Regions from separate parts of the Homo sapiens genome. Here region 2 is linked to region 1. The links come from fine-mapping of genetic effects on gene expression. A gene starts in region 1. The other region holds a variant in brackets. All regions are shown on one strand. Distances are between the middles of the regions. Region 1 holds the start of CYP39A1 (cytochrome P450 family 39 subfamily A member 1). Region 2 overlaps TDRD6 (tudor domain containing 6).

The links. PIP is the estimated chance that this variant, and not a neighbour inherited with it, causes the effect. A credible set is the group of variants that fine-mapping cannot tell apart.
Region 2: its variant is the best candidate, but not a certain one, in a credible set for the expression of CYP39A1 in cerebellar hemisphere (GTEx, PIP 0.51).

What each region holds. Positions count from the first base shown.
Region 1 is chr6:46,651,128-46,655,530 of GRCh38, forward strand. CYP39A1 (cytochrome P450 family 39 subfamily A member 1) reads right to left here and starts at 1,691. Exons shown (of 12, transcript NM_016593.5): 1 at 1,279-1,691. The coding sequence starts at 1,455. It overlaps SLC25A27 (solute carrier family 25 member 27), which reads left to right and starts at 1,848. Exons shown (of 9, transcript NM_004277.5): 1 at 1,848-2,171. The coding sequence starts at 2,066. RefSeq lists enhancers at 1,596-1,645, 1,876-2,005 and silencers at 1,666-1,755, 2,186-2,285.
Region 2 is chr6:46,700,384-46,704,786 of GRCh38, forward strand. TDRD6 (tudor domain containing 6) reads left to right here. Exons shown (of 4, transcript NM_001010870.3): 4 at 1,475-3,936. The coding sequence ends at 1,504. PLA2G7 (phospholipase A2 group VII) reads right to left here. Exons shown (of 12, transcript NM_005084.4): 12 at 3,818-4,313. The coding sequence ends at 4,177. Among named protein-coding and RNA genes, the nearest start is that of TDRD6-AS1, 14 kb to the left of the region's middle. The variant C/A (reference allele first, on the strand shown) is at 1,816.

The DNA of each region.
Region 1 (4,403 bases):
TTAAGTGTGCATGTCCTTTGACTCAGCAATTCTACTCCTAGGAATTTATTCTGAGTAAACAATCAGATAATTGCAAAATGTACAACCACACAATCAATACATGCACACAAACACGCAAGAATGTTCACTGAAGCACTGGCTGAAAGAAAAAAGTTTGGCAGCAACCTATAAACCCAACTATTGAGATTTAAGTAAACTATTGTATCCTCCTATGACAAAATATAGCCATAAAAGGAAGATTCAAAGTATTTCATGGTACAGGAAAGTCATTCACATTATATGTTAAAATCAAAAGCACATAAAAGAGTATTATACTATTATTCCATTGTTGTTCATTAAATAGTTGTAAATACATAGGAAAATGACCAAAATAATATAAATACACTAAATTTTTACAGTACAGCTGGTGTGATATTCTGGGTTATTTTTATTTTCATCTTAGTTCTCTTTAATTTTCTATATGTTTTTTACTAAATTGGAATCTCAGAGATTTTGAAGGCAAATGATCAGTGGTAAAATAATGCTACTACGTATAAATTCATTCTACAAATTGGGCTAACCAGATGGAAAATGGGTCACCACAGAAAGTATTATAATTCATAAGAATAATTATAATATCATACAAATTTATTAGACAATCAAATACCATAAAATATTTGTGACTGGAAATTGAATAAAACTTAAAAGACATTAATAAAGGTCTGTTCCTTAAAGTGCTCAGACATTTAAAAGATACTTTCAAGACAAAAACATCTACTACAAGGAGGATTACTAGTCTCTTCAGGCCGTAGTGAAAATGGAGTACATCATCATCAAATAACAACGTCAGCTAAAAATACAGAGCCTGTTTATTGTGTACGGACCAACTGTGCAAGCAATTTGTACAATACTTTGGTGTTAACTCCAATTTGGATACGAATTACTCATTTTCACAAACTTAAATTGGATTACACTTTATCTTTCCCAATTACTGAAAACATTTACTTAACACATACACATTTGGAACTTAACTTCGATGAAGTAAAAATACGAAAAGTTAATCTCTACTTCCAAAAATGTCGATGCACGCTGCAATTGTATTTCATTTCTTTCGCAAAATTTTGCACAGGATATTGTTGTTAATTGTTAGTAGAGGAATTCAGAAATGACTAGATCCTTTAGTTGAGGCAAGCAGGTATGTTCCCCGTGTTCTAGCCCTGCACTTAAGAGTCAATGAAAGAAAGTTTAAAAAAGAAAGCATTGTCTCCTCTGGAGACCCCGTCTGCCACGACCACATACCTTGATTCTTGCTTTCTCTATAAATTCTAGAGGGGCTTTCCCAAACTCAAATCCAACTCCAATCCAAGGAATCCAGCCCTTGATGCACGGGGGTCTACGCAAATTCTTCCGCTGAAGGAGTAAGAACAGAGCAAGGCAACCCAGGATTATAATCACTGTTGGGGAAATTAGTTCCATGTTTTTGTCCAGCACCTTCCAGAAGCAGAAAAGTGTGAAACAGTCCTGCCGTCCCTTGCTTCTTTTCTGTGGGCTACGGAACCTGTCGGGACTCCCAACCTTTCTGCTGCAACTTTTGCAGCTCTCCTTCGTAACTGTAGCTTCCTTCCTCTGTCCCAGTTTTCAGGTGATTTTTCCATTGTCGCTCCCTCCCACCTCCACTTCTCTTTGAATCTCAGCCAGCGCGGAAAAAATGCAAGGAGGGGCAGGGCCGGGCTAGGACTGACGGGCGAGAACCAGCCGCGTTGCCATGGAGGCCGGGGGCGGAGCCGCAGAGGGACCCGCGGCCGGCCAATCAGAGACGTAGCGGAGCCCGGCGGACTACATTGCCCAGTAACCTCCTGGGCTCCGCTGTGTTTTTCTATTCTGGGGTGTAAGGGGCAGCTGGACCACTCCAGCTGGGACTGCTAGGAAGGTTGCGGGTCCACCCGGCCGAGCCGAACGAGGGAAATGGTCCTCACCCGGCCACTCGCCGGTTGAAAAGGGGCCGCCCTGGCAGGGAAGCGGCCGCCGCGGCGCGGTGCAGCGCAGCGGCGAGAAGGAGTGCGTTATCGTCTTGCGCTACTGCTGAATGTCCGTCCCGGAGGAGGAGGAGAGGCTTTTGCCGCTGACCCAGAGATGGCCCCGAGCGAGCAAATTCCTACTGTCCGGCTGCGCGGCTACCGTGGCCGAGCTAGGTACCCGGCTGCCCACGCCTGGGCCTCCCGGGCCAGTGGCACGCGCCGCGCTGGGGGAGGGTGCGCGGGCGGCTTCGCGCCCGGCAGTGCGCATCGGAGAGGTCGCCCCTTCCATGCCCGCCTGGCAGAGGTGGCGGTGGAGGCCAGGCCCGCGGTGGGAGGAGGAGGGATTGAGGTCTCCACGGCCTTTTCCTTCTAATCTCTTCTAATGCTTCCCTTAGGCATGTGCTGTGGTGCTTGAATGTTGTACTTTAAGAAGCTTCGCGAGCTGTCATTCCTCTGTAGGAATCATTTTCCTTTTCATGAGGATGACCTTTTTAAAAACGTAATCTGTTTTCCATCCTTACTGAGATCATCTCTGTGGTTTATAGTCTTACACAGCCACACTGTCATTATCTTGTGGGTCCAAGTTGTGGACCTACCTTGTGGGACTTCCGTTATTAACCTGCCACTCACAGAGCATCGACTACTTGACCTCTTTGAGTGTAATTCATCTATACTGTTTACCTTGCAGGATTCTGAGAAGTCAATAATATATGATTGCTAAACCCAAGGCAGGACACCCATTAGTTGCGACATTTTTATAATTCCTACAATACCAGGGACTGTGGATATATATTTGAAAAGACCCAGTTCTGACCTTCTTACAGGCTGCTGGGGAGACAGAGAAAGACAATTATAATGTGCTACTTGTTATAATGAAGATATTATTAGGTGTCATAAAAGCATAGAAGAGCAGTTACATCTGCCTACATGAGTAAGAAAAAACTTTAAGAGGCCATCTAGAGTGGAATGATGATGCCCTTGAATGAGCAAGTAGCGTTTATTCCAAGGATTTTGTGAGTAGTATACTCATGTGTTTCCTGTGAAGCCTTAACTGTGTATTTTAAGATTACCCTTACATTTTCTTGCCTGTTACAAAAAAATAAAAAGAACAGTTCTGATGCGTTATCATTTGTAAATGTTAGTTGGTCCTATTTTAAGAGTTTATTTTTTAATTCTAGCATAGCCAGCCATGATCAGTTGTTTCGTGCTCTTCCATTTTTGCCTTTTAGCCCCTCTATTTTTTAATGTCTCTCCTTTCGAAAATGATGGAGAATTTTTACTTTTCATTGTTTTTACTGAAATAAAATTCATCAGCTTAAAAAGATCTAAAAGCAGATTGCTGAATGATATTTCCAGGTTTTATTTTTAATTGATGTGTCCCCCTCTGACTCAATGGCTTTTATACAGGACTATTCCTCGTTAAAAATTCATGGAGAGAATTGTGTGTGGAGAATGGATGGGAATCAAAATGTGGGATGGTTTTAAGTACAAACCACTTCAGGAACCTGAAGCATCATTTAACAAACCAGCGAGAAAACAAAACTTATTTTGAAAGACATAATCTGTGTAATATGGAGAAATCTATTAAGATTTTTCAGGTTTCATATGTCAATAAAATATTGCTTGAAGTCTATGCAAGCTACTTCTGTTCTAGGGAAACTGTCAGCAAGATACTAACTTTTCCAAAAACCAGTGGTAAGATTTAATATTCACTTCCCTTCCCCACATTGTTTTCTCTTGGAAAAGGTATACTAAGGTTTTGTGTCAGGTGGTGGTCATTGAAAAGTCTTATATAATGTAAGTAATGTTCATGAACTTGTCTGAATGTTATTATTTTAATTATTCAGGACGTTTTCTGTATAAGGTTATGAGCTCTATCTTCCTTATGTAGGCCGTTTAGCTTAACTGTATTAAGGTAAAAGGTCTGTATCTAATTTAAAACTTAAAACCAAAAAATTTTTCCAAAATACAGTTAGTACTTGTAAGGAGGCCATGAGTAGGCGATGCATATAATTTAGTGCTGGAAAAATAATTCCATATATGCTTTAATTGAAAGGATATTGAGCTTATGACCCTTGCATATAAAAGACAACATTATAAACTCCATTACATCTTCTGTATCTCAAACATTATGTCAGTCATTCATCTGCATGTGAACATCACCCACGAAATTATAGAGTTCAGCTTCATCTAGCATTTGTTATAGTACATAAGAATATATAGTGCAGTATTCTAATGTTACATTAGATCTCAAATAATCATGGCTGCAGTCAAGAGGATAGCACACAATATGGTACTTTAAATTATTTCCCATTGAAAAGCAAAAATTAATGACTAACAGATATTAAAGTTAAATTTCTGAATAGAAAGAACCCAAGGCTTGTCATTTTAATTTTTATTGTTAAT
Region 2 (4,403 bases), 49 kb after region 1:
ACCTGTCTACAAATGAGCTAGCTTTCCTTACAAAGTGAGTGTTGTATTATGCATGACTTTTTTTTAATGATACATCAAGTCACTATGATCTAGGAATCTAATTACTTTTTTTAAAAAAATGGTTTCTTATCTGAGTTATTTTATTTTACCATAAGAGTATTTTGTTAGTTACTGTATCACATAATGCATGCACATGATGCTATTGGTTGTTAAAAGGAATATAGGAGAAATATTTCCCTTTTCATTGTCCTTAATAAAGCATCTGTGGCTCTACATGGATACTGTGTTTGAATAACAGCCCCTTGAACAATGATGTCCCTCCCTCCTTCACCAATTACCAGAGTTGTTGGGGATTTGAGAGCTAAACATTGGAAAAGGGTACTTTACTCCCTGTGTAGAGTGCTCCAGGGATATGTTCTAGAGAAATGAGTATTTGAAGAATAGAAAAAGTACTTGACATGATTCCTCATTATAAAATCAGATTGTCATAATTTTGATAGAAATACATTTTGTTGTTTACATCTTTTCTGGCTTATCTGTGGTTCCATTTCTGATTTGAATTATTTTGTACTCGTGATAAAGAATCAATAGCAATTCAAAGGTTCCTTTTGTTAGGCTGTATCCCAAAGAGTAGGGAAAGATCTTTACTTCATGTCAGTGGGTGATACCACTATTAAAGGTAACTTGTGTTTTTAAAACAAAATACTTTTATCACCCAGAATTACAATTTCTTAAAAATATTGTTATGCTGAATCCCTCAAACAAAAATGGTTTATCAATTTCTTTGGACATAGGTAGCAGGGAAGAAAAACCACTTTAGGTAAAAAAATTTAAATATACTTATGGAGATAAATAACCCAAGATGAGGATTTCTTGAAATATAGGAAATTTATTAATTGAATTAATCTTGAAAGTTAAATTATGAATGTGATAAATTCACATTTTAAAGAATTTTCTCTGTTAATTAGCTCATATGTTCAAATGATATTTGTTAAATAATCTCTTGGAATTTCTGAATCTTTAGTTTATATAAGATTCAAATTATTGGCTGGTTCTTGGTATTGCACATTCTTGTTCATAAATAATGCAGTGGTTCTTAGAATTGAGGCACATTGAGAATAAAATCAGCTAATGGTAGCTTTAATATCATGTGAAAAATATATACTAATCAAAAAGGAAAAAGAACTAATTGATTATCAGCCTTGTTCACACCATTCTCTAGCAAAATATAAAATATGCCAATTTCATAATTTTTAGAGAAACTTGATTTGATGGTACAGTGTGAGAACCAAAATATTAATAAGAAAATAAAACATTGTTTCTATAGAAATAATGCCCTATAGTAATTAGAATACTCATCTGTCCCCTCTCCCTTTTAGAGAACATTACATTTGTCATGGTAACACCCATGGAAATAAATTTTTTTGTTTGTATGTTTCTTTCTCAGTTTGAAGTTTTTCTCTTTTTGTTTCAGAAAAGGGGTTTGGAGGTGATGGAGATTTAACCGTGGATCTATAGCTGTGGCCAATCAGTCAGAAGCTGCCCTTGAACAAGTGGCATCTTACGCAGACCAACAGAGTATTTGAGAAAATTGAAAACATGTAACCACAAGAAGTTGTCATTTTCAAAAACTTCTATATAGGTGGAAAACAAATTAGGTCTCAGGTTGATGGTGGGGTGTGTTTATAGTGATCCTGTTATATATACAGATCTGGGATCTTTCGTCTTTATTGTCTTACGTTTCTAATTAGTTGGGAGGATTTATTTTGCTAAACAGTTTACTAACACATTACATTTCAAAAACTATTTTGGTAC[C/A]TTTCAAATACAGTGTTTAAATTAAAATAGAAAAATAAGGGCTCATGACAAGTACATTATTTGATTCTACTTAGGATAGCTTTTTAGCAGGATCTCCTTCAGAATTTTTGTCTTGACTTTGAATCTTTGCCTGTTTGTCTAAACATTTGACTAACATTCTGTTTGAATTTGGAAGTATTCTAATACAAGATTTGAATAAAGTTTATCCTTAAATAAAGTTTATCCTTAATATGATGGTCTCATTTTATTAAAAAGGAAATAGAACTCTTAAATATACTTGGTTCCATCTCTCCTCTGTAATGGAGGATTGGGGAAAGCATAGTAATATTAAATGTTAGCTCTTATGTATTAGTCACTTAGCTTATACTTTAAATGCATTTTTTCACTTTATTCATCAACTTTGAAGTGCATATCAATATTATCCATATTTTATAGGTGAGAAAATTGAAGCTTCATAAAGAGGTTAAATAACTTGCCTAAGGTCAGATAGCTGATGAGTCTCAGAGGCTTGATCAAACCCAGACCTACCTAACTTTGAAGCCCATGACTTTTTAAACATGATTTTGCAAAGCATAGATCTTAGCTTTTAGAAACAGATCTGAGCTATATGCTGCTTAACAGATATGTGACATGGGCAAATTATGTAATATTTTGAACTTTGATCTTCATCTGTAAAGTGGTGATAATAAAACCTTTCTTGCAGTGTTTTTTTAAGATGAGAAATAATTGATATAAAGTCCCTGAAAAGGAGTAGGCATTTGATAAATGTGTCTTTCTTTACCCTGAAAAATACTCAGTGTGCACTATGTTAGGTTATTTCTTTTTAACCTTAACTTATTAGATATTTTCAATAGTTATTTTCTCCTTTCAGCATCAGCATGCGCCACCAACAAAAGACTGTAAAAAACAAACAAACAAAAAAGTGTTGAATGGGACATCCATACAGTTGGAATGCTTATTTCTAAAATGAATAGGGAAAAGGTTTGCTAAATGAGACTGGGGTAAAGGTGTATCTCTGTGAAGCATTATCAGACTCTGAAGCCTAATGGAAATAGAATTATGAACCTTAAAAACCCATTATAATTTCCGTAAGTAGAAGGGAGAGAGGTTTGCATTAAAAGTAATTGAGGTAGATGAGTATATTACTTATTCCTGGAATAATGAATAGACAAGTTTGGCTTACTCATATAGATAATATAATGTGAATTGCCAGAAGCAAAGCTCAGAGAAGATGCATTAGGATCAGATTATAGGAAGCCTTCAATTTCAAGCTGAGTTTAACTCCCTATTTTAAAAAATTTAATCTGAATGGCTACAGAAGTAAAATTTCTCAGAATGAGTGACTTTGCACCTGACACCACTAAGATAGGACTAGGGTACCAAATGAGTGGTATAAATTTTTATGTCCCCTGGGAAATAAAATCATTTTCCATGATTCCCATATTTATAAGTATAAATTCTTAAGCTATATTTTTACCTCCATTTAATCGTGTTATTCTGTTTTACTACTACATATAGAATTGAAAACATTAAATAAAATTAACTGGAATATGAAGAAGCTAAATGTAATTCTGAATGTTTTATTATCCTTCACAGCCTTTGTGTGAGTAACTAATGTATTCTAACTGGAATCCCTGCTATATGCTGTAATACCTGTGGAACCTTTCTTTAGCAAGTAGAATGCCTTAAAGAATTAAAGAAAGTGTCAAAAAATTACCAATTTAATCCACTGCCTTTGCCTCATCTCTAATATTCTTAACCCTTCTCTACTCCTTTTAGTCATCATTTGAAATTGTGTAGTACCACCAATCCTGTGCTGAAACAATGGCTTTTGCTTGTTCTAATTTTTCTTACCGTGACCAAAAGTCAAAGAGAAGAGCTGCCAAATTCTACCTAGAATATCATGTTGCTATAATTAAACTCCACTGCCCATAGTAGATAATAAAAGGCAAGAAATTGTTTTTTACTCTATGTTTAGGGAGTCTTGTATCATTGCAACAGGTTTTCACTGGGATTTTGCCTGTTTTAATCTACTTGTCTGTCAAAGTAATGTAAAAACAGTTTTTAACTTCGACACTGAAAAGGAATCATCTTTAAAATTAAAATTTAGGCTGATATGAATATTGTATACTGTATTCTTTCTTTACATCTAAAGGGAAAAAATTCTTAGTCCAAGCTTCAATCACGATTACAGTATAGCCTACATTTTAAAATATGAGTCCTTTGGGAAAATACATTAAAATTCTCTCTCTCTCTCTCTCTCTCTCTCTCTCTCTCTCTCACACACACACACACACACACACACACACACATAATTTTAGACAGTTTTGAAACAAGACTTTTAAAAAACCTATTTTAATCCTAATTGTATTTCTCTATTCCTGAAGAGTTCTGTAACATGATGTGTTGATTGGTTGTGTTAATGTTGGTCCCTGGAATAAGATTCTCATCATCTCCTTCAATCAAGCAGTCCCACTGATCAAAATCTTTATGAAGTCCTATAAAATATAAAGTGTTAATCAACATATTAAACTTTTGAGAGCATTAAACAGTTTGGTGCCCCTAGGTGGCAATAAAGATTTACAAAT